4 separate regions of the Homo sapiens genome follow, and regions 2, 3 and 4 are each reported to be linked to region 1. The links are microRNA targets in miRTarBase. Many come from high-throughput screens and were not tested one by one. Region 1 holds a microRNA gene; each other region holds the end of a gene's coding sequence.

Region 1 (7,117 bases):
CAAGGCAGGCCCCATCTGTCTCCTCACCCGGAGGCCTCTGACCACCCCACTCATGCTCAGGGAGAGGGTCTTCTGGATTTTTCCACCAGGCTCCGGGCAGCCACAGGCTGGATGCCCCTACCCCAGGCCCTGCGCATACAGGGGCAGGTGCTGCGCTCAGACCTGCCAAGAGCCATATCCGGGAGGACCCTGCCCCTGACCTAAGCCCACCCCAAAGGCCAAACTCTCCACTCCCTCAGCTCAGACACCTTCTCTCCTCCCAGATCTGAGTAACTCCCAATCTTCTCTCTGCAGAGTCCAAATATGGTCCCCCATGCCCATCATGCCCAGGTAAGCCAACCCAGGCCTCGCCCTCCAGCTCAAGGCGGGACAGGTGCCCTAGAGTAGCCTGCATCCAGGGACAGGCCCCAGCCGGGTGCTGACGCATCCACCTCCATCTCTTCCTCAGCACCTGAGTTCCTGGGGGGACCATCAGTCTTCCTGTTCCCCCCAAAACCCAAGGACACTCTCATGATCTCCCGGACCCCTGAGGTCACGTGCGTGGTGGTGGACGTGAGCCAGGAAGACCCCGAGGTCCAGTTCAACTGGTACGTGGATGGCGTGGAGGTGCATAATGCCAAGACAAAGCCGCGGGAGGAGCAGTTCAACAGCACGTACCGTGTGGTCAGCGTCCTCACCGTCCTGCACCAGGACTGGCTGAACGGCAAGGAGTACAAGTGCAAGGTCTCCAACAAAGGCCTCCCGTCCTCCATCGAGAAAACCATCTCCAAAGCCAAAGGTGGGACCCACGGGGTGCGAGGGCCACATGGACAGAGGTCAGCTCGGCCCACCCTCTGCCCTGGGAGTGACCGCTGTGCCAACCTCTGTCCCTACAGGGCAGCCCCGAGAGCCACAGGTGTACACCCTGCCCCCATCCCAGGAGGAGATGACCAAGAACCAGGTCAGCCTGACCTGCCTGGTCAAAGGCTTCTACCCCAGCGACATCGCCGTGGAGTGGGAGAGCAATGGGCAGCCGGAGAACAACTACAAGACCACGCCTCCCGTGCTGGACTCCGACGGCTCCTTCTTCCTCTACAGCAGGCTCACCGTGGACAAGAGCAGGTGGCAGGAGGGGAATGTCTTCTCATGCTCCGTGATGCATGAGGCTCTGCACAACCACTACACACAGAAGAGCCTCTCCCTGTCTCTGGGTAAATGAGTGCCAGGGCCGGCAAGCCCCCGCTCCCCGGGCTCTCGGGGTCGCGCGAGGATGCTTGGCACGTACCCCGTGTACATACTTCCCGGGCGCCCAGCATGGAAATAAAGCACCCAGCGCTGCCCTGGGCCCCTGCGAGACTGTGATGGTTCTTTCCACGGGTCAGGCCGAGTCTGAGGCCTGAGTGGCATGAGGGAGGCAGAGCGGGTCCCACTGTCCCCACACTGGCCCAGGCTGTGCAGGTGTGCCTGGGCCGCCTAGGGTGGGGCTCAGCCAGGGGCTGCCCTCGGCAGGGTGGGGGATTTGCCAGCGTGGCCCTCCCTCCAGCAGCACCTGCCCTGGGCTGGGCCACGAGAAGCCCTAGGAGCCCCTGGGGACAGACACACAGCCCCTGCCTCTGTAGGAGACTGTCCTGTTCTGTGAGCGCCCTGTCCTCCGACCCGCATGCCCACTCGGGGGCATGCCTAGTCCATGTGCGTAGGGACAGGCCCTCCCTCACCCATCTACCCCCACGGCACTAACCCCTGGCAGCCCTGCCCAGCCTCGAACCCACATGGGGACACAACCGACTCCGGGGACATGCACTCTCGGGCCCTGTGGAGGGACTGGTCCAGATGCCCACACACACACTCAGCCCAGACCCGTTCAACAAACCCCGCACTGAGGTTGGCCGGCCACACGGCCACCACACACACACGTGCACGCCTCACACACGGAGCCTCACCCGGGCGAACCGCACAGCACCCAGACCAGAGCAAGGTCCTCGCACACGTGAACACTCCTCAGACACAGGCCCCCACGAGCCCCACGCGGCACCTCAAGGCCCACGAGCCGCTCGGCAGCTTCTCCACATGCTGACCAGCTCAGACAAACCCAGCCCTCCTCTCACAAGGTGCCCCTGCAGCCGCCACACACACAGGGGAACACACGCCACGTCGCGTCCCTGGCACTGGCCCACGTCCCAATACAGCCCTTCCCTGCAGCTGGGGTCACATGAGGGGTGGGTTTCACCATCCTCCTGCCCTCTGGGGCTCAGGGAGGGACACGGGAGACGGGGAGTGGGTCCTGCTGAGGGCCAGGTCGCTATCTAGGGCCGGGTGTCTGGCTGAGCCCCAGGGCCAAAGCTGGTGCCCAGGGTGGACAGCTTCCGGGAGCTGACCTCAGGACATTGTTGGCCCATCCCGGCCGGGCCCTACATCCTGGGCCCCGCCACAGAGGGAATCACCCCCAGAGGCCCAAGCCCAGGGGGACACAGCACTGACCACCCCCTTCCTGTCCAGAGCTGCAACTGGAGGAGAGCTGTGCGGAGGCGCAGGACGGGGAGCTGGACGGGCTGTGGACGACCATCACCATCTTCATCACACTCTTCCTGCTAAGCGTGTGCTACAGTGCCACCGTCACCTTCTTCAAGGTCGGCCGCACGTTGTCCCCAGCTGTCCTTGACATTGTCCCCCATGCTGTCACACACTGTCCCTGACACTGTCCCCCACTCTCTCCACAAACTGTCCCTGACACTGTCCCCCATGCTGTACACACCTGTCCAACAGTGTCCCCCAGGCTGTCTCCACATGTCCGACACTGTCCCCCATGCTATCCCCCATCCTGACACTGTCCCCCACACTGTCCCCACCTGTCCTTGATGCTGTGCCCCACGGTCTCCCCACCTCTCCCTGATTCTGTCCCCCACGCTGTACCTGTCCCCAATGCTCTCCCCCAGCCTGTCCCCAACACTGTCCGCCATGCTGTCCCACCTTTCCCCCACACTGTCCCCCAGTCTCCGCCTGTCCCTGACGCTGTCCCACATGCGGTCCCCCATTCCTGATACTGTCCCCCATGCTGTCCCCACCTTCCCCAACACTGTACCCCACAGTCCCCACCTTCCCCAACACTGTCCCCACCTGTCCCTGACACTCCCCCATGCTGTCCCCACCTGTCCCCCACTCACCCCCCACACTGTCCCTGTCTCTGACACTGTCCCCCATGCTGTCCGCACCTGTCCCCGTCCCCCACGCTGTCCCTACCTGTCCCTGACACTGTCCCCCATGCTGTCCCCCACTTTCCCCAGCTTTCCCTGTCCCCCACGCTGTCCCTACCTGTCCCTGACACTGACCCCCATGCTGTCCGCACCTGTCCCCCACTCTCCCCACCTCTCCCTGTCACCCACGCTGTCCCTACCTGTCCCTGACACTGTCCCCCATGCTGTCCCCACCTGTCCCCCAATCTCCCCACCTCTCCCTGTCCCCCACGCTGTCCCCACCTGTCCCTGACGTTGTCTTCTGTGTTATCCACATGCTGTCACTACCATGGCTCTGCTCTCCATGTCCAGGCCTGGGGGCAGGCAGTGTAGAGCCCCGGTACCTGGGTGGCCTGAAAGGCAGATGGGCCTTGGGAGCAGGGCTGTGGCCTGGGTGGCCTGAGGGGTGGGTGGGGCTCAGGGGCAGGGCTGTGGCCTCGCTCACCCCTGTGCTGTGCCTTGCCTACAGGTGAAGTGGATCTTCTCCTCAGTGGTGGACCTGAAGCAGACCATCGTCCCCGACTACAGGAACATGATAAGGCAGGGGGCCTAGGGCCACCCTCTGCGGGGTGTCCAGGGCCGCCCAGACCCCACACACGAGCCGTGGGCCATGCTCAGCCACCACCCAGGCCACACCTGCCCCCTGACCTCACCGCCCTCAACCCCATGGCTCTCTGGCTTCGCAGTCGCCCTCTGAGCCCTGAAACGCCCCCCTTCCAGACCCTGTGCATAGCAGGTCTACCCCAGACCTCCGCTGCTTGGTGCATGCAGGGCGCTGAGGGCCAGGTGTCCCCTCAGCAGGACGTCCCTGCCCTCTGGACCACCAGGTGCTCACACAAAAGGAGGTAACCGGCATCCCAGGCCCCCACTCAGGCAGGACCTCGCCCTGGAGCCAACCCCGTCCACGCCAGCCTCCTGAACACAGGCATGGTTTCCAGATGGTGAGTGGGAGCATCAGTCGCCAAGGTAGGGAAGCCACAGCACCATCAGGCCCTGTTGGGGAGGCTTCCGAGAGCTGCGAAGGCTCACTCAGACGGCCTTCCTCCCAGCCCGCAGCCAGCCAGCCTCCATTCCGGGCACTCCCGTGAACTCCTGACATGAGGAATGAGGTTGTTCTGATTTCAAGCAAAGAACGCTGCTCTCTGGCTCCTGGGAACAGTCTCGGTGCCAGCACCACCCCTTGGCTGCCTGCCCACACTGCTGGATTCTCGGGTGGAACTGGACCCGCAGGGACAGCCAGCCCCAGAGTCCGCACTGGGGAGAGAAAGGGCCAGGCCCAGGACACTGCCACCTACCACCCACTCCAGTCCACCGAGATCACTCGGAGAAGAGCCTGGGCCATGTGGCCGCTGCAGGAGCCCCACAGTGCAAGGGTGAGGATAGCCCAAGGAAGGGCTGGGCATCTGCCCAGACAGGCCTCCCACAGAAGGCTGGTGACCAGGTCCCAGGCGGGCAAGACTCAGCCTTGGTGGGGCCTGAGGACAGAGGAGGCCCAGGAGCATCGGGGAGAGAGGTGGAGGGACACCGGGAGAGCCAGGAGCGTGGACACAGCCAGAACTCATCACAGAGGCTGGCGTCCAGTCCCGGGTCACGTGCAGCAGGAACAAGCAGCCACTCTGGGGGCACCAGGTGGAGAGGCAAGACGACAAAGAGGGTGCCCGTGTTCTTGCGAAAGCGGGGCTGCTGGCCACGAGTGCTGGACAGAGGCCCCCACGCTCTGCTGCCCCCATCACACCGTTCCGTGACTGTCACGCAGAATCCACAGACAGGAAGGGAGGCTCGAGCGGGACTGCGGCCAGCGCCTGCCTCGGCCGTCAGGGAGGACTCCCGGGCTCACTCGAAGGAGGTGTCACCATTTCAGCTTTGGCTTTTCTTCTTCTTTTAAATTTTCTAAAGCTCATTAATTGTCTTTGATGTTTCTTTTGTGATGACAATAAAATATCCTTTTTAAGTCTTGTACTTCGTGATGGGAGCCGCCTTCCTGTGTCCACGCGCCTCCTGCCCCCGGTGGGAAGCACGGTCAGGAGGAGGCTGGTCGAGCTGCACCTCGGGGGCTCCCTGCACTCGCCCCCCGCCTCCTGCAGCCACACGCATTGCCCGAGCGGCCCTCCCTGGCCCCTGTCGCTACATGGACCCCCGGGGCTTCTCCTCTTTTCTACATGGATGCAGTTTCTCCTCCTGCTGGGCACGGTGCTGCCTGCCCTGGTCACTCTGCGGGGGACAGGGCCTCCAGGGAAAGCTGGGTCGAGGCTGGGAGCTGGCTCAGGCTGGCCAGGCAGAGCCACAGGGAGGGCCTTCCAGAACCAACCATGGTCCGAAGCGAGAGGTGGGTGTCAGATCTGTGTGCGTCAGCTCAGGACCACAGCGGGGCAGCTCCCACGGCAGACATGGATCCTCCCAGGCCTAGAGACCAGGAATCTGAGATCAGGATGCAGGCAGGGCTGGTTTCTCTCAAGCCCTCTCTCCTTGGCTTGTAGACACCGTCTCCTCCCTGGTCCTCACATGGCCATCCCTCTGTGTGCCCGTGTCCTAAGCTTCTCTTCTTATAAGAACACACATCGCATTAGATTAGTGACCCCATATGAACTTAATGACCTCTGTAAAGACCCCATCTCCAAATAGTCACATTGTGAGGCCAGGGATTAAGACTTGAATATATGAATTTGTAGGGGCCACAATTTAACTCATAACAGTCCATGCTATGGCCCCCCAAATTTCATGTTCTTCTCACATGCAAAATACATTCATCTGTCTCAGCATCCCCCAAGTCTTAGTCCTTTCAGCATCAATTCTAAGCCTAAAATCTCATCAAACTGTCACCCTCATCAGGCACAGGTGAAACCTGGTGTGTGATTCATTCTATGGTAAAATTCAGCCCATAGGACACATGGTGGGTGCCAGGAACGAGGACAAGGCAGGAGAGGCAAAGGTGGAGAGAGACATTTTCAAAGATAAAGCTGGGCACTAGATCATGTAGCAAGGACGGATTTTCAACAGAAATAACTATTGCAACAGAAGAAAGAGTCCGGCATGACCTGGACTCACCTTCATCTGTGCAGAGGCCACAGCCTTGTAAAGGGAGGTGGTAGGGGGAGCAGGGTGGGTGCTCGGGGCTCAGTCGTCGGGGAAGGGAAAAGTTGCCCAGCGCTGGTCAGCGTCCCCGGGATGGGACCTGCTGTGTCCGTGCCGGCCACTGTTGAGGTCAGGATTCTGTCCTCCCAGAGCCTGGAGACACAGGCCCCATCCTTCACAAAGGGGACACTTCAGGGAGCGGCTCTCAAGTCTTGAGAAAGACCCTCCTGGGTCACAGGAAATGCACAGACATCGGGAACGGATAGAAGGACGTGTGGTTGCGGCCCTCTCAGCAGACACCCTGAGAAAGGGAGGTCGGGGTTGGTCCAAACGGTGAGTTCTGGTGCACGGAGCTTTCTCAGGCAGGTGTTGACGGGGCAGGGGTCGGCCTAGGGGTACGGCCAGAAGCTGTTAGAAACTGTTAGTGTCTGCTCAAGTCTTTACAAGCCAAGGTTGAGGCCGAGTGGAGAGGCTCCGAGGAGCCTGGCTGGAACTCAGTCAAGGACAGGGTCTTGTTACTGCAGTGGCTGCGGTGGCTGCGGTGGCTGGAAAATGCCGTCGGAGTTGCCTGTGGCAGGAGAGAGACCATCTCACCCAGGAAGGAGGAGTGGTTGGATTCGTTTGTGTGGCATCGAGCAGCTGGAGCTGCACCAAACACGGAGTTGGGGACTAAATCCCCAGACTCCAGGCCCTGCCATGCCGTGGGAAGGCTCGCCACTGGAGGGTGGGCTCCAGGGGGCCTGGCCTGAACTGGGTGCTGAAGCCCAGCCCTTTAACTCTCAGGACACGCTGCTGCAGCCCCGCGGGGGGTGAGGGAGACAGCACCTGGGGTGCAG
Region 2 (7,117 bases), not on the chromosome of region 1:
GATAGCAGGCACATGGGAAAGTGGGGGAAGGAAATGTCAGTTCCCCACCCTCCCTACTTTCCTTTCAGGCCCTCCCAGGTCAAGGTCCATGGCCTTCAAGACGGCCAGGGAGGGGTTCTGCCTGCAGCTGGCAGCACAACAGGCAGATGGTGGTAGTTGGGAGGAAGGGGTGGGGCCATCCCACAGAAGGAAATGCATGTTCTGGAAATTTTAACAGCTGGGCCTGTTTGTGTGGTGGGGGGACATTCCCAGACAGCTCTTGTTTAGGGTTTTGTCAGTCCTTACCTAGCTGAGAGGAGGGCAGTGGGACAGCCTACATCAGGGACCTCTGTCCTCATGTCCTTCTCTGAGTTCTTAGGGAATGGAACTTGGCTTCACATCTGCTTCCTCCCCGCTCACTCCCCATGGCACTTTAGGGCCCTTTTCCCTGTTTTCTCGCTCCCCAGTGTCCTTCTCTTTTCTCCATCTCTGCATCCTCTGTGCTGGCTTGTGTCCTCATCCCCCCGACACCTAGGGACCCCAGCTGCTGGTCCTGTCTCCTCCATGCTGGTCCCTGGGGATATCTTTTCTAAAGGACATCTCTAATCATATAATCTCCCTCCCTAGCACATTCAGGGGCTAGCCAGTGCCTGGAGGATAAAGTCCATACTCTTCAGCCTGGACTCAGTGACCTTCCCAGAGGGCGTCCTCGCACAGCGGGTGACGGGCCCCAGCACTCCCACACACCTCTCCTTTCCCAGCTCTGCGCCTTTGCTTCAGCCATTGCCTCTGCCTGGACACCCCTCCCTCCTTCAGTAGTTTCTAATGTAAGAGCTTCTCTAACCATCTGCTGAGGTGCTCTCAAGTGTCCCGTTCTCCAAGGAGCCTTTGTTAGTCCTCCCTGTGGTTAATTCATCGCTTCTGCACTCAGTGTCCCTTGCTTGGTTGAGATTTTTCTTTTTCTTTCTTTTTTTGTTTTAAGACAGTTTTGCTCTTGTCAATCAGGCTGCAGTGCAGTGGTGTGATCTTGGCTCACCGTAACCACCGCCTCCTGGGTTCAAGTGATTCTCCTGCCTCGGCATCCCAAGTAGCTGTGATTACAGGTGCCCGCCACCGCAACTCGGCTAAATTTTTTTTTTGTATTTTTAGTAGAGATGGGGTTTCACCATGTTGGCCAGGCGGGTCTTGAACTCTTGACCTCAGGTGATCCACCCACCTCGGCCTCCCAAAGTGCTGGGATTATAGGTGTAGCCACTGAGCCTGGTCTGGTTGAGATTTTTCTAATAATCTTTCCCCACTTAGCTCTCTGTGTAGCAGGCATAGTGTAGAGCATCAGACTCCCCCCTCTGACCCTGATTACTCTTCTCTAAAATAGAATCCTGCCTATTATTGATAATAAAGAGCTGATATACTGAGTCCTTCGTATGTTCTAGACAGTGTGCTCAGAAATAAACATGCATTGCCAGTACAGACAGGTCAAGTTACTTATTTACTTCTACTAATAGTGGTGGATGGGATTTGAACCCAGGCCTGCCTGCCTCCACAGACTTAACCACTGAGCAGAGGGCTCAGTTATGTAACTACAATTTCCCACTTGCCTCACTCCAACCCTAAAGTGGGGAAATCTGTAGGAAACCCAGGTTCTGGTGGGGAATGAAGAGGCATGTTAGAGCGCTGTTTTACCGCTTCTGGGTTCCGAAATTCAGGTTGGGCAACCCGACCCTTCTCCCTCCCATGCTCAGCTCAGTCTGGCTTCCTCATCAATAGGTAAAGGAGGAAGTGTCAGCAGAGAGAGCAGAGCCTGGAATCAGGACAGCTGCGTTCTAGCCTCAGATCTGGCACTTACTAATACAATGGTCACAATCCTGTCTCTGGGCCTCAGTTACCAAACCTGTGAAACGAGAGGGTTGGTTGGGGCCATCTCTAAGACCATTTCCAGTGAGTCAATCCATGATGTACTGTCTATGTCTTCAGGCAGTATGTTTCACCACTTGGAGCCCAAGTTTCCTCATTGGTAAAAAGAGGGTGATCACCCCTATAATACTGCAAAGGAAGTAACGGCCATGGAGGCAAAGCTTCTCAAGTGGGATTATTCTGGTGGCGACTTATTGCTTGCAGCTGTGCTGGGGCACCATGAATATAGGGGGATTTCTTTTTTTTTTTTGAGACACAGTGTCCCTTGGTAGTCCAGGCTGGAGTGCAATGTCACGATCATGGCTCACTGCAACCTCCGCAACCTGGGCTCAAGCGATCCTCCCACCTCAGCCTCTCGAGACTGCAGGCATACACCACTACCTCCAGCATTTTTTTTTCCTATTTTTTGTAGAGACGGGGTTTTGCTACACACAGGCTGGTCTTGAACTGGGCTCAAGCGATCTGCCCACTTTGGCCTCCCAAAGTGCTGGGGTTACAGGCACGGGCCACGGCACCTGGCCATAGGGAAACTTTAAACAGCCAGCGGTTCCCACACCACCGCCACGGGCAGGAGGTTGAGTGGCAATTCCTAAATAGCTGCTCTCTGCTCAGGTTAAAAGGGCACCCCCCCTCCCAATGGGCAACTTCCTTCGGGTATTTCCTAGTGGCCCCAAAGACCAAGATTGGCCCATCCCAGTTCAGAGCTTGTAACAGTTTGCCCTAAAGGGAAAATGCAAGGCTCAAGGCAGGAGGGGGAGCAGTGAGGAGCTAGAGAGTATTGAAGCCCACCTCCACAGGTGACGACAAAAGGAGAAAACACAGGGTGCTTCTAAAAGCACCGGCCCTGGCCGGGATGGCAATTCCAGTTCTGTCTGCTGCTAGCTTGCTATGTACCCTGGGCCAGTTGCTTCCTCTCTGTGGAAGTGACAGTTGTTTCATCTGCAAGTGAGGGAGGGAGGTGAGAATTTCTGAGGGCCCCTTCTACCCTTAGAACATCACAGCCAGCCTCCCTTTCTCCCACTTTGAGACAGCAGCGGTTTGGGCTTCTGCTTTCTCTTTCCTTTTAGTTTTAAATTAGCCCCCATCGCTTCTCCCGATTAAACTTTGGCCACAGAAGCAATCTCCAGTGTCATTTTGGAGAGAGCTGAGCAGGAGGGACACTCAGTGGAAGCTCCTTAAGCACCAGAACCACATTGGTTTGTATGTTTTGCACCTAGCACGTGGCATGGAACATAGGAGCCACTCATTAAGTGTAAACTGCATGCATGCATGAATGGGGTGCTCTGGTTCAGAACAGTGGCTACTCTCCTCCTCTGCTAAAACTCCAAGAAAAAAATGTGGTTTGTTCAGCTGGCACCGAGCTCTTAGTAGGACCGTTGCAAAAGGCTCCCGAATGGCACCCTGCCTTCCTACATTTGTCCTCAGAGCATAGCTAGACGCACACCTTCCCCACTCAAGAACTCCAAAGGCTTCCCCTAGGTTATCAGAGAAAATCCTGACATTTAAAGTCCTCCTTAATTGGAGACAAACTGTCACTTCTCATCTTGTCTACCTCACCTCACAAACTCTTAGGGTTTCCTTCCTGCTACCGACCAGTACCAGAATGCAACTACCTTAACTGAAAATTATGTGGAAAATGCATGCTGAGGCATTAGGGAGGCATCAGACAGCTACTGCCCGATTTTAGCTGTCCTCATTCCTGGTTTCTAGGCCTCCTCTTCTGTGTTCCCCTCAGCTCCATGGGCTCTCCTCACTTCTATTCCCTGATTCCACTCTTCTTTCCTTTCTGCCCCAAGCCCATTTCCCTCAGTATATATTTTAAGGCACTTTTCTTTTTGGGTTCAAATGCCTTTGTGATCTGCAGCTGACGGACTTCATGAAATCAAAGCCATAAAGCATCATGGGCTCCACCTTTCAGCCCCTACAACTGAGCCTGGTTCGGGGCAGGTAGTGAGACTGACTCCGAGCCAGGCACGCACCCTGCCAAGCACCTCCACGTGGTGCCTCCTTTTATTCCCACAAGGCTACAGGATAGGTGGAATTGGAATGAGGAGCCCTGTTTTACAGAGAAGGAAACCGAAGCTCCTGTGCTGACGGTCAGTTAGTTACAAAGGTCTTAATCCAAAACTCTGAACCATTTTGTTAATTTATCTTTCAGTAACAGTTCAATTAAGTTAGACAAATATCCCAAAAAGCTCTTAGCTGGCCCTCAAGGCACTTGAGTTCACAGCCCAGAAGAAAGGAAGTAAAGACACGGTAAGGTAACTTTTCTTTGTTTCAGACTCATTATGTCAGAGATTAAGAGAGAGCTCTTCAAAATTGTTGGATCCAACCCCCCACTATAAAGTTGGAGTAACTGAGGCCCAGTGAGGGCAATGGCTGGTCTGAGGTCACAAGTGAGGGAGGGACGAGACCAGACTCTCTCACCTGCCTGTTGCTGTCTTCACAGCTATGAAAACAAACACATGCGCCGCGCACGGTGGCTCACGCCTGTAATCCCAGCACTTTGGGAGGCCAAGGCGGGTGGATCACCTGAGATCAGGAGTTCGAGACCAGCCTGACCAACATGGAGAAACTCCATCTCTATTAAAAATACAAAATTAGCCAGGTGTGGTAGCACATGTCTGTAATCCCAGCTACTCGGGAAGCTGAGGCAGGAGAATCGCTTGAACCCGGGAGGCAGAGGTGGCAGTGAGCCAAATTCATGCCATTGCACTCCAGCCTGGGCAACAAGAGCGAAAGTCCATCTCAAAAAAAAAAAAAAAGAAGAAAAAGAAAAGAAAGAAAAGAAAACAAACACGCGCTAACCTGCAATAAACTAGTCTGGTCAGCCAGGGTAGGGAGAAGTGCCCTTTGGCCAGCAGCCAGCCCCATGCCATGGTCACTGGACAATCTTAGACCAAAGCCACAGACCAGAAGTAGGGCAGCGGGGGAGGGAAGGCAGAGGAACTGCAGTTGCGCCTACTTGCTTATCAGTGACCTGCATGAAGGAAACTTTCCATGCACCTCTCCAGATCAAGATCACATCGGGCACCCTTGCATAGTTCAAAAGAGGAAGTTTGGGCTTGGTTGAAATGGATGAAGAGCATACAGAAATGTCCAGACAGCGAGAGGGGATGAGGGGGAACCTGAGGCCCGGAGCAGGGCTGGGCCAGCCTTCCCAGGCTTGCTGCAAACTCAGATTCTCCTGTGCGCTTCCCGGGAAACACCTTGCAAGAATTTAAAGACGTAACTCGCTCCTGGACAGACTTTACAACCTCAAGCTCTAATGAGGAAAATCCAGGCTGCAGGCTCTAGGTAGAAGACAGAGGCCCTCACTGGAAATGTGTTTATGTGTTTGTGTATCTCTTTTTATTTCTTCCTTAGAAATAAAAAGTGTCAAGGGAATGAATCGGAGGCATACTTTAGGAAGTTAATGTTAGAAGGGAAGCCAAGATTTTTTTGTCCAACTGTCTCATTGTAGATAAGAAAATAGAGACTCAGGGAGGGAAAGGGGCTGGCCTAAGGTCAGAAACAAGTGCATGGCAGATGCAGATTTGAACCCAGGCATCCAAATTCCTGGTCCAGTACTCTAGCGCGGCCTGGATGGAGATGGGTGGTGAAATGGATGGGAAGATTTGTCAGTTTGCCCCAGCACATTTACTATCCTTCCCACCACCCCGCCCAGCACATTCAACTGGCCCCTGCCACCAACCCCCTCATTCAAAGTACAGACACTACTCATTTTACAGACAGAGGTTCAGGATGTTTTTGGATCTGACATAGCCCAAACCAGGGCAGAGGCTGTAGCAAGGGGAGGAAGCTGGGAAAGCCTGAGGGTCAGAGGGGAGTGGAGGTGGACAGGATCTATGGCTACGGTTTTTCAGCCGCTCAGCCGTGCTGGGCCCTCGATGGCCCGTGGGAGTGGGAGCGTTTCCTAAGCTCCACTGAAGATAAGAGCCCAACCCAACCCCTCCCCCCACCCCTGCCCCTTCCTTAGTCTCTGGAGCTGGAACAATCAGGCTTGGCCATGGCGGCTGGTGCTGATAACCATTTCTTGGCAGAAGTGCCCGCCAAAGCTGTGGCCCTAGTCCTCACCACCACAGAGAGCCAGCAAGGCCTTCAGGAAGTCTCCGGAGGTGTCACCCTGGCAGAGGCAGAGAGCAGAGTGAGTGAAAACAGTCCTTCCAGTCTCAATGCCCCCTCCTCCCGGCTGCCCATCTGTCTGGACATCTCCCTCGGCTTCTCTCCATGACCAACATAGGATCCCATGCCACATGTAGGCTACTGGGATCTCCCAGACACATAAATGTGACCACGTCCCTTTTGTTTATCCCCAGGAAGATATGCAAGCTCCCGGCCTGGCTTCAAGGCCCTTTGGGATCTGACCTGTGCAGAGCTCTGCAGCTTCACCTGTTCCTTTCCCCCAGGAGCATCTCAGTCCTCTCTCCACCTGTCACTCCCCTGTCCAACATGCCCCTGTGCACCCCCAATCCCATTTGCCAGCAGGGCCCTCTCCTCTGAGAAGCACTCTGGCCACTCTCTTGCGTCAGGAGGCACAGTGAACTCTGGCCTCCCTTGGTTCCCCTGGCACTCTGCTGATACCCTCCCCCATGGCCCTTGGCATATCGTGTTAGGTGATTTCTTATTTGAACAAACAACATTGAGTGCTAACTGCCAAGCCATTGCTGGGAATGGGTACAAACACCATCACGCTCACCACACATCACAGTGGTCTGGTATACGTTCAGACTGGGGAGGCCAAACTTCCTGACCCATGGTATGGTATGGATCTCCCTTCTGAGGGACTCCTATCATTGTTATGAGACATGGTTTTCGGGATTTTGTTTGTCCTTGTATTTTTTGATGTATGATTTTAAAACATAATATAGTATCAAAATGTGCCAACAATTTACTTACATTCCTACTAAGTCTGTAAGAGACTGCCTCTGAGATGCCCATAGTCTCGTTAGCCAAGTAGAACCAAGCATCAGACTTTAAGATCTTGGCTGATCTCAAAGAGCAAAAATATAAGCTCCATATGTCAAAAAAGTCAGACGCAGCCAGGTGTGGTGGCTCACACCTGTAATCCCAGCACTTTGGGAGGCCAAGGCAGGTGGATCACTTGAGGTCAGGAGCTAGCAACCAGCCTGGCCAACACAGTGAAACCCTGTCTGTACTAAAAATACAAAAATTAGCCAGGCATAGTGATGCATGCCTGCAGTCCCAGCTACTCGGGAGGCTG
Region 3 (7,115 bases), not on the chromosome of region 1:
CATTTTTCAGATGTAGAAGCTAAGGGTCAGAAACACAAAATATCTTACCTAAGGTCACCCAGCAGAATTACTGGAAGAGCGAAGACTTGAATCCAAGATTCCTGTCTCTAAATCCAATGCTCTTTCTACTCTAACCTTTCTTACTCATGCCTATGTTATTCTTTGATCTGCATTTGCTTGGGAGAACCAAGGAGAATATTAAAAAGGTAGAATTCTGGCCAGGCGTGGTGGCTCACACCTGTAATCCCAGCACTTTGGGAGGCCAAGGCAGGCGGATCACAAGGTCAGGAGTTCAAGACCAGCCTGGACAATATAGTGAAACCCCGTCTCTACTAAAAATACAAAATTAGCTGGGTGTGGTGGCACATGCCTGTAATCGCAGCTACTCAGGAGGCTGAGGCAGGAGAATCACTTGAACCCAGGAGGCGGAGGTTGCAGTGAGCCGAGATCGCACCATTGTACTCCAGCCTGGGCAACAAGAGTGAAATGACGTCTCAAAAAAAGAAAAAAAAAAAAAGCCAGGTGTGGTGGTGCGTGCTTGTAATCCCAGCTACTTGGGAGGCTGAGGCAGGAGAATCGCTTGAACCCAGGAGACGGAGGTTGCAGTGAGCTGAGACTGCGCCACTGCACTCCAGCCCGGGAGACAGTGCGAGACTTCGTCTCAAAAAAAAAGGTAGAATTCTAGGCGTAGGGAGAAAGACAGCTATTTGGGCCCCTGAAGCTTTGGACATTTAAGAGGAGAGATAAAGGATGAGAGACGGGAATGTGAGCTTTTTGGTAGTTTGTATGTGGGAAGGAGGAAGAGAGCTGTCCGGACCTCTCTTCAGCTCCCCATCAAGGATGTGGACCTCATCCCCAGAATCATGCGGCCTGCATGCATGTGCAGAACTCGGAGACTGCTGGCCCCTCCTCAGGGGTGCTAGTCCCATGCCCCCATTCCAGGCTCTATCCTCTGTAAGGCTCCTGTTGAGTTGTGAGCCTCCTCCTAGCCTACCCTGATTGTTCCCAGCAGCTTGGAGTTCCCAGTCTGCCGATTTCCAAGGAATTTACATATTGGCCCATACTCAGGCAAAAGCATATCTTTGCAGTTAACTTATGGCCTGTCTGGGCTATATCTGCCTCTGCTGGGTTGGAAAGGACCCACTATGGTAGCAGGTGAGGGTGTCTCGGTCCTCACTTTACTGACCTCCACAGCTCACTTTTGTTATTTATTGGCACAGGAGGAAGAAGGGGAAGACTGTACACTCAGTGTCTACAGGCAACTGCACAACTCCCTGGATCCGTCTGAACTGCCTGGGAAGCAGGGGCTGCCAGAGTCTGGGCGAGTACGGGCCGAGGAACGATTACGGCCAACCAGGCCCTGTGCTGAGGAGAACTGAGCCCGCTGGGTGTCTGTTGTCTGCCCTCTGCTCCTGCTTCTCAGCTCTTCCACCGTCCTGCCCCACGAAGGATCCAAGGCCAGTTAACCAGGCAAGACACAAGCCTTGGCTGGAAAACTGTGGTAGAGCCGGGCTGTGGCTCAGGTAATTTTTGCCATTTGGCCAGAGGGAATCAGAGACTACAAGCTGGACAGTCACCCAGGCCCAACCTTCCCCAATGCACGAGTCCTCTCTCTCTCCTTGTCCCTGTCCACCAAGTAGTTGGACCATTCTGGCCCCCAAACAAGGGAAGATAAAGTCCCCAGCACACAGCAGGAGTCAAAAATTCTTCTCGGCTCCTTGGTGGGTTGTTTCTGGATCCTAGGGCAGCCTCTGTCTGTGTGGTTAATGTTCTGGTTTCTCAGTCTCCTCACTATATCCACTTCACTCCTCATTTGCCCAATGGGCTCAAGTACCCCATAAGATTTACCAGCCATCAGCTCTATCTAGGGGGCTTTCATTTCTTTCCCCTTGGAGTTCTTTTCTTCAGACTTAAAGCAGAAAGGGGTCTGTGCTGCCTCTAAAGGATTATGAGACTACCCTTTAGGTTGAAGTTTGACCTGGCTCCTGGCTTACCAGTCTCCTGGAAGCAGAGCATGCAGATACTCATGCGGATACCCATTGGAATGACATCATCCCTCCCCAACCCCAGCTCTCTCTGCTCACCTTCCAAAGGCACCTGGAGGTGCAAGCCTCATGCATCTCCTTTCCTGAGCACCAGTAATGCTGCTGGCATCGCCTGCTTTCTCTCCAGTGGCTGGAGACTTCAAGCTGACTTCATTGTTTCCACCTTGGGAAAATCCCTAGGCTAAGCTGGGCCTGACCCAGCATCCTCTGCCTTCTAGGAAGTGCCCAGCAAGAGGGAAAGCAGACCCCTTTAGTCACTCCACAAGCAATAGCTCCATGAGAGGCATGGACTGTGAGACTACTCCCTCCTGTTCCTCCTTCTCCATCCCCCATGGAGGAGGCATCGCACTTTACCAAGCTGATGCATTCCTACAGAAGTGGGCCCCGGATTTCTGCAAGTCGACTATCATGATGACTTCGCTGGAGGAAAGGTGATACGTACATACGCATTGAGGGCCTCAGCTTTATATAGTTCAAAATGCAGCAAACTTTTCAGAAAGCCACGTAAATAAATTGGTTAGGTTCCTTATACCAGTCACATGGGGAAGTTGAAAAGAATTGTATATTCTTGGCAGTGCTTTTTCTTTAGCATTCTGTCAATTCAAAGAAGGGATCCTCTTTCAAAGGCTACCTTTATGAAGTAGACACTATTGCCCTCAGAATGAGAGAACATTAAACTACCAGTCTGGTAAGCTGGATTTTTTTCCCCATGGCTTTACTTCCTTGCTGTGTGACCTTGGGTGAGTCATTGTCTTCTTGGAGCCTCAGTTTCCCTGTCTGTAAAATGAGTTCTTTGAAATGGATGATCTCTAAGGGCACCAAATCTGGTATTCTAAGGTTCTCCTGTTTTCACCATCTATAATAGTATGGGATGATTTTTGCTTGTGGAAGGTATCATCCGTGTGGGTTCTTCCCTCCTGCCCTCAATTGTTTTTCTGGGCCTTGTTTTTTAGTTTCTGTATGTTTTAATCTCATGGGGATGAGCTCAGAGAAGCTCCGTGGGCCTGTTTCCCAATCTGCAAAGTGTGAAGGGATTAGATGGGATGGTCTCTGAGGCTCTTTGTGGCATCAGCCTTGCCCAGTGCCACACAGTATCTCCTGGCGTTCTAGGAGTCTAGGTATTATGGAAAGTACCCAAGTCTGTGTATCTCCTGTTCCTGTGCATCTCCTATGAATTTCCTGGCAAGAGGAAGACTCAAGACTTCCTCCAGAGGAATTTGTCTTCTCTGCCTTCACTCAGCATGGGAACCAGTGTTCATCCTGACCTTGTCTGTATCAGATTTGGCAGTGAGGAGGCTTGGGGAGCACCTACCTTACTTTCAGGGACAGGAATCTATTGCTCATACTTCTGCTTCCCAGAGTTTTGCCAATCTAAAGGCATTGTCATGTGGCCTGCCTTTCCTGTCCACATCCCCACCTCTGATGCTCAAGATGCTATTTCCAAGATCTCTTACTGCTGCTTCTCCTGGCTTACTGGCCAGAAACTAGCTCACTCAAGGCTGCCATCCTTCACTTGCAGCCTCCCTGCCATTCTCCTTCACTGGTTGGCAACCTTGAGAGTTCAAAGAAAATCAACCTCTGTGGTGGTCAACTAAAGGTATTAGGAAACTAAGTCTGTGGCTCTTCTCTGCTGATGGAAACAGAAGGGCGCCAAGCCATGCCTAAAAAGATCTCGCCAATAATTCTTGTCTTTGAGTGTTGGAGCCCTGGATTCTGGTGCTATAGCTCCTGGTGCCAAAGTCTGGATCTTTCCACATTTCAGCAGCACCAACATCTGCTGCTACTCAAAATGTCCTGTTGAAGAGGGACAGCTGTGATGCCCTTTTGCTGGGGCTGCCATCTTGAAATCTGAGTGCAATAGGATTTGCTTGTAACAGTTATTTCAGGATATTTTGTTTCTTTAATCTGCACACTTTCTAGATAGATTTTATTTTTAAGTGTCCTCAGCATTGCAGAAAATAACATTGTAATAGCAAGTAAAGGCTGGAGGCTGTTTCTCTGGGCTTCAAATGGCTGGCAAGGCTGGCTCTCAAATCCCAAAGTTGGGAGGCATGTTTCTGAAAAGCAACTGAGGTGTGACTGTTTGGACCCAGGCCTCATCATCAGGGGTCCTGGAGGAAGCCTCCAAGTAGAGGGGAGACCTGGTAGTTGAATAGTTGTTTAATCAAGCCAAATAGTCCCACTGCCCCCGGTCAACAAACCCACTTTTATGACAGTTTTCTTCCGCAGCTTGGCTCTTAAATTTTACTGGCAGGTGTATGGTTGTTGGAGGGTTCCTAGTGAGTTGGGGGACCTGGCAATAGAGCTGCTTGGTTGGAGGAAGTGAAGCTGGCTTAGTACCAGCAGCTGATCTCTTCCACGTGCTGCTGCTTTTTTTGCCACTCTGATACTAAACCAGAGAAAGCTGCAGGTGGATAAAGAAGCTGTGGCTGTTTTTTGCTTTTGGGTGGCAATGAGAAAGAGTCACAGTGTGGGTTAAAGGGATCTGCAGTGGGGCCAAGGATGCCACCCCACCCTCAGCTGTAGGCAAGCTTGCACATAAATAACCCCCGTCAGTGGAGTGTTCGGGATGCAGGGGGCACTATAGTGTTCTTGGACTTGTCGTCCTGGGGCAGTTTTAGTTCTTTATATTTAGTGGGTCAGTGCCAAGTGCTACCACTTCCCAATAAAGGAATGGGGACCCAGAGGCTGGGTCCCTGGCTACCTTGTTATGAGGTTTTGTTATTTCTCTGACAAGATTGCTTTGGAAAGAGCTGCTTTTAGGGATTATTTTTTGAATACCCCGAGTGGGGAGCAGGGTTCTCCTCAAAGCCTCACAACCATAGGATCATAGGAAAGGGGCCCTATTTTCCTGCTGCTTCCCAGCTCAGAACATATACTGAATGGAATGTATTTTTAAGAGAATAAAGTCTATTTTTTTGTATTTTAAAGATTGAGAGGGCTAAGAAAGTAGCCCTCAAATAAACTGTTATTGCATTATAGGCCCCTTTGTTGGGGGCAGCCTGTTGGTCCACACCTACTTGCTCAGGCAGGTGCTCTGGTCTCTCTCACCCCTGCCCCTTAGAGTCTAGGTGCAGCAGCTCCAAGCATGGGACCAAGGAGGCCAGAACCTGTCGCTGGAAACCAGGGCAAAGCAGTGGCTCAGGGCTCCTTGGGTGCATGTGTATCATTGGAGCTGCCTGTCTGCATGTATCCTCTGGCGCGAATGCTCTCTGTTGGCTCTGCAGTACAATATGTAACCAATAAAGCTCCCTCGTTTCCGTATACTCTGTGCGAGTCTGTGATGCCAGTTTTGTCAATGTCATCCCTGTGTATCATCTGTCTTCTATGCGTTGGCGCAGCTCTAGTATATTTATTTATTTCATTGTGTAATACTTAAAATTGGGTATTTTACCTAACCAATTACTGATACTGCAAGGACTGGAAACATTAACTGCCCTGATCCTGGTGTGCAGATTCTTTCCATTACTGCCACGAATTCTAAGACTAGGGGGGGAAAAGCCTTCTCCGTTTTCATCTTCCAGTCAGATCACCAATATATATAATGATGTCCCTTAACTCACAGTAAGAAAGAATAAAACCACATTTAAGGGACATTACTTGGATTTGCAGTAACAGTGTTTATCATCTATCTGTCAGTCAGTCAGGAGCCCCTGGGAAGGAACCAGCATGTAACATGTTTTTATCATCTTATATGGCAAAAGGGACTTTGCAGATAAGGATGCTGGGATGAGGCAGAACATCCTAGATGATCCAGGTGGGCCTTAAATGTAATCACAGGTAGTATCCTTTTAAGAGAGAGACAAAAGATTTGACTACAGGAGAAGGCAATGTGATGATGGAAGCAGAAACTGGAGTTATGTGCTCTGAGGATGGAGGAAGGAGCCACGAGCCTTCCCACACCTAGAAGCTGAAAAGAGCAAGGAAATGAACTGATCCTCCCTGCTCTGAGAGCCTCTGTAATGAATGCAGCCCTGTGTACCCATTTTAGACTTTAAGCTTCCAGAACTTTCGAATAGATTTCTGTTTTTTTAAGAGCCACTAAGTTTGTGGCAATCTGTTAAACCAGCTGTTACCTAAGCCCTTGATCCTATGTAGTGCGCTTCCCAAAATGTACACCACCACCTTTAGTAGAATTGGGAAGTTTTAGCACATACCCATGGAGGGAATCAGGAATAAAGGCAGACTGGTCTCCCAAAGGCTCAGACTTTGTTTCAGCTCTTTTGTGTTCTATCTTGAAAGTGCATCCAAAGTTTCCTAATAACCATGTTCTTGGCACACCACCACACTCCACCCCCACCCAAGTGAGGAAGCCTAGTCCGACTGACCAGGAAGTCCACTGCTTCTACAGGACCGGCCCCCCTACCTTATCTTCTGACCTGATCAAACCATTTTTCTCTTTTATATGAACATCTTCTTCCTTATTTAAACATGGAGAAAACATGTATTACTATTGCCATAGGATAAACTTGGCATTTCCAAAGGAGTAATGCCCCCATCTTGTATGTAACTCCAACTCAAAGGAACAAAAGAGAGGGCCAATTTTATATGAAGTTTTATTCTCAAAATATAAAAAAAAAACAAAAACCCCACACACCAAGGGACTAAGATGATGTTATTTCACAGCACTTGCTTGCCTCAGTCTTTACGAAGAACACAATTCCAAACTAATGGACAAGTTCCTCCCTGTGCTCTAGGTCATTCAAAGGAGGCAAGCTCCTTTGTCAAATCAGGAGCTCCATCAGCTGATCAGGAGCCCAGATGCCAGGGTGGATTTTCTCAGTGGGATCTAGTATTGCTAGAAGAGCCTTCCTTACATGGCAGAAACAGGCACATGGGCCTCTTCCCTTAGAATGCATCTGTCTCACATGCTTGGGGACTGCTGTGCAGGAACACCTGGTGTGGCCTGGCGAGGCAGCGTATACATGGCCCCCAAAAACTGGTCTGCAATTCTTCCCGCTTCTCGCAGCCCACTCAGCAGAGCACCATGCACTGTGGCTGGGTAGTTACGGATCGTATGTTCTCCCGCAAAGAAGAGTCGTGGAATCGGCTATTTTAGGGGAAAAAGAG
Region 4 (7,117 bases), not on the chromosome of region 1:
GAGGGCTCAGTCACCCAGCCCGAGAGAGGTCATTTTTTAATAGTGTTTTTCCCATTCATTATGATAGGTGAGGTAGGTGCCTGGAGAGGAGGTTTTGGGGGAAGGGATGAAGGGGAGGAGAGAGCTTAGAGGACTCTGGAGAACAAAGTCCATCTCCACTAACTTCACAGGTTCTGCCACCAGGGTGAGGGTGAGGGGCAAGTCTTTGTTCCCAACTAGTTCCGGGCAGGCTGAGAGCCAGAATGACCACCAGGAGCAGCCAGCCCCACAGGCGAGCAATGAGGGCCTGCTTTAGCTACAGTGGGGCTCCTGAGTGGGAGGGGTACGTACATGCGCTGTATTAAGCTCAGAGCCCTCTGAAACCCCCTTCTCACCGGTCACCTTCCCCACTCTAGCAGCGGCTAACAGAGGAGCTGCAGACAGTGGAGAATGGTTACCATGACAACCCAACACTGGAAGTGATGGAGACCTCTTCTGAGATGCAGGAGAAGAAGGTGGTCAGCCTCAACGGGGAGCTGGGGGACAGCTGGATCGTCCCTCTGGACAACCTGACCAAGGACGACCTGGATGAGGAGGAAGACACACACCTCTAGTCCGGTCTGCCGGTGGCCTCCAGCAGCACCACAGAGCTCCAGACCAACCACCCCAAGTGCCGTTTGGATGGGGAAGGGAAAGACTGGGGAGGGAGAGTGAACTCCGAGGGGTGTCCCCTCCCAATCCCCCCAGGGCCTTAATTTTTCCCTTTTCAACCTGAACAAATCACATTCTGTCCAGATTCCTCTTGTAAAATAACCCACTAGTGCCTGAGCTCAGTGCTGCTGGATGATGAGGGAGATCAAGAAAAAGCCACGTAAGGGACTTTATAGATGAACTAGTGGAATCCCTTCATTCTGCAGTGAGATTGCCGAGACCTGAAGAGGGTAAGTGACTTGCCCAAGGTCAGAGCCACTTGGTGACAGAGCCAGGATGAGAACAAAGATTCCATTTGCACCATGCCACACTGCTGTGTTCACATGTGCCTTCCGTCCAGAGCAGTCCCGGGCAGGGGTGAAACTCCAGCAGGTGGCTGGGCTGGAAAGGAGGGCAGGGCTACATCCTGGCTCGGTGGGATCTGACGACCTGAAAGTCCAGCTCCCAAGTTTTCCTTCTCCTACCCCAGCCTCGTGTACCCATCTTCCCACCCTCTATGTTCTTACCCCTCCCTACACTCAGTGTTTGTTCCCACTTACTCTGTCCTGGGGCCTCTGGGATTAGCACAGGTTATTCATAACCTTGAACCCCTTGTTCTGGATTCGGATTTTCTCACATTTGCTTCGTGAGATGGGGGCTTAACCCACACAGGTCTCCGTGCGTGAACCAGGTCTGCTTAGGGGACCTGCGTGCAGGTGAGGAGAGAAGGGGACACTCGAGTCCAGGCTGGTATCTCAGGGCAGCTGATGAGGGGTCAGCAGGAACACTGGCCCATTGCCCCTGGCACTCCTTGCAGAGGCCACCCACGATCTTCTTTGGGCTTCCATTTCCACCAGGGACTAAAATCTGCTGTAGCTAGTGAGAGCAGCGTGTTCCTTTTGTTGTTCACTGCTCAGCTGATGGGAGTGATTCCCTGAGACCCAGTATGAAAGAGCAGTGGCTGCAGGAGAGGCCTTCCCGGGGCCCCCCATCAGCGATGTGTCTTCAGAGACAATCCATTAAAGCAGCCAGGAAGGACAGGCTTTCCCCTGTATATCATAGGAAACTCAGGGACATTTCAAGTTGCTGAGAGTTTTGTTATAGTTGTTTTCTAACCCAGCCCTCCACTGCCAAAGGCCAAAAGCTCAGACAGTTGGCAGACGTCCAGTTAGCTCATCTCACTCACTCTGATTCTCCTGTGCCACAGGAAAAGAGGGCCTGGAAAGCGCAGTGCATGCTGGGTGCATGAAGGGCAGCCTGGGGGACAGACTGTTGTGGGAACGTCCCACTGTCCTGGCCTGGAGCTAGGCCTTGCTGTTCCTCTTCTCTGTGAGCCTAGTGGGGCTGCTGCGGTTCTCTTGCAGTTTCTGGTGGCATCTCAGGGGAACACAAAGCTATGTCTATTCCCCAATATAGGACTTTTATGGGCTCGGCAGTTAGCTGCCATGTAGAAGGCTCCTAAGCAGTGGGCATGGTGAGGTTTCATCTGATTGAGAAGGGGGAATCCTGTGTGGAATGTTGAACTTTCGCCATGGTCTCCATCGTTCTGGGCGTAAATTCCCTGGGATCAAGTAGGAAAATGGGCAGAACTGCTTAGGGGAATGAAATTGCCATTTTTCGGGTGAAACGCCACACCTCCAGGGTCTTAAGAGTCAGGCTCCGGCTGTAGTAGCTCTGATGAAATAGGCTATCCACTCGGGATGGCTTACTTTTTAAAAGGGTAGGGGGAGGGGCTGGGGAAGATCTGTCCTGCACCATCTGCCTAATTCCTTCCTCACAGTCTGTAGCCATCTGATATCCTAGGGGAAAAGGAAGGCCAGGGGTTCACATAGGGCCCCAGCGAGTTTCCCAGGAGTTAGAGGGATGCGAGGCTAACAAGTTCCAAAAACATCTGCCCCGATGCTCTAGTGTTTGGAGGTGGGCAGGATGGAGAACAGTGCCTGTTTGGGGGAAAACAGGAAATCTTGTTAGGCTTGAGTGAGGTGTTTGCTTCCTTCTTGCCCAGCGCTGGGTTCTCTCCACCCAGTAGGTTTTCTGTTGTGGTCCCGTGGGAGAGGCCAGACTGGATTATTCCTCCTTTGCTGATCCTGGGTCACACTTCACCAGCCAGGGCTTTTGACGGAGACAGCAAATAGGCCTCTGCAAATCAATCAAAGGCTGCAACCCTATGGCCTCTTGGAGACAGATGATGACTGGCAAGGACTAGAGAGCAGGAGTGCCTGGCCAGGTCGGTCCTGACTCTCCTGACTCTCCATCGCTCTGTCCAAGGAGAACCCGGAGAGGCTCTGGGCTGATTCAGAGGTTACTGCTTTATATTCGTCCAAACTGTGTTAGTCTAGGCTTAGGACAGCTTCAGAATCTGACACCTTGCCTTGCTCTTGCCACCAGGACACCTATGTCAACAGGCCAAACAGCCATGCATCTATAAAGGTCATCATCTTCTGCCACCTTTACTGGGTTCTAAATGCTCTCTGATAATTCAGAGAGCATTGGGTCTGGGAAGAGGTAAGAGGAACACTAGAAGCTCAGCATGACTTAAACAGGTTGTAGCAAAGACAGTTTATCATCAGCTCTTTCAGTGGTAAACTGTGGTTTCCCCAAGCTGCACAGGAGGCCAGAAACCACAAGTATGATGACTAGGAAGCCTACTGTCATGAGAGTGGGGAGACAGGCAGCAAAGCTTATGAAGGAGGTACAGAATATTCTTTGCGTTGTAAGACAGAATACGGGTTTAATCTAGTCTAGGCACCAGATTTTTTTCCCGCTTGATAAGGAAAGCTAGCAGAAAGTTTATTTAAACCACTTCTTGAGCTTTATCTTTTTTGACAATATACTGGAGAAACTTTGAAGAACAAGTTCAAACTGATACATATACACATATTTTTTTGATAATGTAAATACAGTGACCATGTTAACCTACCCTGCACTGCTTTAAGTGAACATACTTTGAAAAAGCATTATGTTAGCTGAGTGATGGCCAAGTTTTTTCTCTGGACAGGAATGTAAATGTCTTACTGGAAATGACAAGTTTTTGCTTGATTTTTTTTTTTAAACAAAAAATGAAATATAACAAGACAAACTTATGATAAAGTATTTGTCTTGTAGATCAGGTGTTTTGTTTTGTTTTTTTAATTTTAAAATGCAACCCTGCCCCCTCCCCAGCAAAGTCACAGCTCCATTTCAGTAAAGGTTGGAGTCAATATGCTCTGGTTGGCAGGCAACCCTGTAGTCATGGAGAAAGGTATTTCAAGATCTAGTCCAATCTTTTTCTAGAGAAAAAGATAATCTGAAGCTCACAAAGATGAAGTGACTTCCTCAAAATCACATGGTTCAGGACAGAAACAAGATTAAAACCTGGATCCACAGACTGTGCGCCTCAGAAGGAATAATCGGTAAATTAAGAATTGCTACTCGAAGGTGCCAGAATGACACAAAGGACAGAATTCCTTTCCCAGTTGTTACCCTAGCAAGGCTAGGGAGGGCATGAACACAAACATAAGAACTGGTCTTCTACACTTTCTCTGAATCATTTAGGTTTAAGATGTAAGTGAACAATTCTTTCTTTCTGCCAAGAAACAAAGTTTTGGATGAGCTTTTATATATGGAACTTACTCCAACAGGACTGAGGGACCAAGGAAACATGATGGGGGAGGCAGAGAGGGCAAGAGTAAAACTGTAGCATAGCTTTTGTCACGGTCACTAGCTGATCCCTCAGGTCTGCTGCAAACACAGCATGGAGGACACAGATGACTCTTTGGTGTTGGTCTTTTTGTCTGCAGTGAATGTTCAACAGTTTGCCCAGGAACTGGGGGATCATATATGTCTTAGTGGACAGGGGTCTGAAGTACACTGGAATTTACTGAGAAACTTGTTTGTAAAAACTATAGTTAATAATTATTGCATTTTCTTACAAAAATATATTTTGGAAAATTGTATACTGTCAATTAAAGTGTTTTTGTGTAAACTGGTTCAAGCTCTAGTAGTTTCCTCGGACTTCTTAAAGCCTTCACTTGTGTATGAGGCTCATCGCCAAAGTGCCTGAGAATGTCGGCTCACACCCGTAGCACAGGAGCCTCCGTGCTGAGTTACACTTGTCCAACTCTGCAGGCAAAGAAATTAGGCAAGAGAAGGAGAGAAACCGGAAGAAAAAAAAAGGGGGATCCTAAAGGTGGTTATGAGTCTTTATGTTACTCAAGCTATCCTAGTGACTCTAAAGAACCTCACTTTCCCCTAAGATGACGTTGTATGTTTCGCTGTCTTCCTTCCCTCTACTTCTGCCTCAGATACATTGTGAATCACCACTATCAGAAATCCCCAAGAGGGCTGCTGAACATTGATCAGGTATGAAAACACTGGCAAAGAGACTATATATATACATATATATGTGTGTGTGTGTGTGTGTGTGTGTGTGTGTATGTATATATATATATATATATATATATATATATATATATGTAAAAACAAAGCTCTGTTCTGGCCCTGTTTCTGCCATAAAAGGATCTGTTTACTGCCACAAGAGGCTTCTGCCTATCCCTCCTCCAGGTCTGCAGTGAAGATAGATAGCGGTTTAAGGAAGGAATCACTGGAGATGATTCTTTCTTCATCTCCTAGTGTGGTATTATCCACAGCTGCATGCTTCTTCATCGGAAGGGGTAAACTTCATCATTCCAAACTTGCAGAAGGGAAACTGTCAGGTAGAACTGGTCCATAATCTTAGTTGCTAGACAACAATCTTGTCTACTTGCCTAGCATCTTACCATTTACAAACCATTTTATAGGAAACCTATAGGTTTACAAACCTATCTTATAGGAATTGTCCCCACTAGGGAAATTAGATGCAGGAGTTAAGTATTCTCTTTGAGATTGATCACACAACCATTTAAATGGCAGCATGGGCCTTGATTCTCTTTTTGCTCTTTAGTCCTACACTCTTTTCTCAGTATCACGTTAATGCCAGAGTTCCAACAACAGCAAAATACATTTCTAGAATGCAACTACTGTTACAACATGATTTTCCTTCCATGAAAGTTGTTGTGAAAAGCAGTTAAACCCTGAAGAGAGGTCTAGAGTTGGGCCCGGGTAATTTTGAGGTTAGCTTCGAGAGGGTGCCAAGGATACAGAAAGGAGTCCAAGTACAAGGAACTCACACAGGACCCTGGCCATGGTCGAGGTGCACTGTTCTAAGAGTGACCCACAGCTTATTGTGGGCCACAAGTTAGACCTAAGATCCCATTCTCTTTCTGAGTAGGTCATTCACCCTGATCCCTGCCTGCCAACCAAGACACACGCTCAGTTGTCAATTTAAATGTGTTATGCTCATTTGTCACTCAGAACCTTCCCTATAAGCTCCCTCCCAAATCACAGATTTCTTCTGTACCACAAGGGAAAAAAGTAAATAAAGAATAGAACTGGCTACATAATTAACACTAGTGATAAACACTGAGATATCTATTGCTTTCAAAGACCTTGGTGGGGAATGGTGGCTTATGCCTTTAATCCCAGCACTTTAGGAGGTCAAAGTGGGAGGATAGCTTGAGCTCAGGAATTCGAGGCCAGCCTGGGCAACACAGCCAGATCCCATCTTTACATTTTTTTTTTTTAAATTAGCCAGTTTTGCTGGCACATGCCTGTAGTCCTAGCTACTCAGGATGCTAAGGCAGGATCACTTGAGCCCAGGAGTTGGCGGCTGCAGTAAGCTATGATCACACCACTACACTCCAGCCTGCATGACACAGTGAGACCCTGTCCTAAAAAGAAAATCAATAGGATCCTAGCCAACAAGATCTGCTGCCAGTATTTACTTCACAGAAGAAATGAGGCAGAGAAGTTGTGCAATATTATGCAGAAGTCATTGGTCATCAGGAAATGAAAGCCAGGATTCCCAATTCCTCCTGGACTCTCCATTCTATGTCCCAAGTTTAGAGGGCAGCTGTACAATGCTGCTATGTACATCGCCAAGGGTCCTAACCACCTCTCGGGGTTTGCCAACCATTAAAACTTACGAACGTAGTGCTAGGCAGGCTACTTCTACGTAGTTTCTCCTTATTACAGTTTCTCCTATATTAAGAATCTCTCTGGCAAGGATATGATTGACGGCTGCTGCTTTTGCTGGGTGAAAGCCCACAGGAAAAAAGTCCCCGTAAGACAATAGTGAAGCTGTAGAGTAAGGATGGTGGCATCATCCTCTGCTGCCCCAACTGCCCTATGCCCCAGAAAGCCCAAGTCTCCAGTCCCCTCTTCCTTTTCTCTAAGAATGTAAAAGGCAAAGGAAGATGTAGCATACGTGGTGCTAAAGAAGGAATGTCATCAACCAGGATTTTGACTTACGCCAGAACTGTACAAGCCTCAGATGGTCTTTCCAGTCATATTAATACCTTCAGAATCTGAACAGTTAGTGATAAACCAATGTTGCCTTCATTTACAGGGAAAATAACCCCCCCCACGCCCC

Evidence for each region. The annotated mature microRNA hsa-miR-8071 reads CGGUGGACUGGAGUGGGUGG and lies in region 1 at 4,504-4,523, opposite strand. An mRNA with a match to its seed (bases 2 to 7 or 8) in the 3' UTR can be bound and repressed. Matches are read on the target gene's strand: a 7mer-m8 pairs with bases 2 to 8, a 7mer-A1 pairs with bases 2 to 7 and ends in A, and an 8mer does both.
Region 2: the mRNA of ANXA6 is a reported target of hsa-miR-8071. Seed matches in the 3' UTR shown: 7mer-m8 at 5,728-5,734.
Region 3: miRTarBase lists LUZP1 as a target of hsa-miR-8071. Seed matches in the 3' UTR shown: 8mer at 1,628-1,635.
Region 4: the mRNA of PODXL is a reported target of hsa-miR-8071. Seed matches in the 3' UTR shown: 7mer-A1 at 1,519-1,525.

Annotation. Positions count from the first base shown.
Region 1 is chr14:105,618,557-105,625,673 of GRCh38, reverse strand. MIR8071-1 (microRNA 8071-1) reads right to left here and starts at 4,558; the gene lies at 4,494-4,558. It also overlaps IGH and IGHG4.
Region 2 is chr5:151,095,489-151,102,605 of GRCh38, forward strand. It overlaps ANXA6 (annexin A6), which reads right to left. Exons shown (of 26, transcript NM_001155.5): 26 at 5,218-6,019. The coding sequence ends at 5,960. Among named protein-coding and RNA genes, the nearest start is that of TNIP1, 18 kb to the left of the region's middle. RefSeq lists enhancers at 2,918-3,027, 3,218-3,267.
Region 3 is chr1:23,083,159-23,090,273 of GRCh38, reverse strand. LUZP1 (leucine zipper protein 1) reads left to right here. Exons shown (of 4, transcript NM_001395462.2): 4 at 1,221-6,244. The coding sequence ends at 1,379. It overlaps KDM1A (lysine demethylase 1A), which reads right to left. Exons shown (of 21, transcript NM_001009999.3): 21 at 6,585-7,095. The coding sequence ends at 6,910. Among named protein-coding and RNA genes, the nearest start is that of MIR3115, 42 kb to the right of the region's middle.
Region 4 is chr7:131,497,787-131,504,903 of GRCh38, reverse strand. It overlaps PODXL (podocalyxin like), which reads left to right. Exons shown (of 9, transcript NM_001018111.3): 9 at 396-4,633. The coding sequence ends at 593. Among named protein-coding and RNA genes, the nearest start is that of PODXL, 55 kb to the left of the region's middle.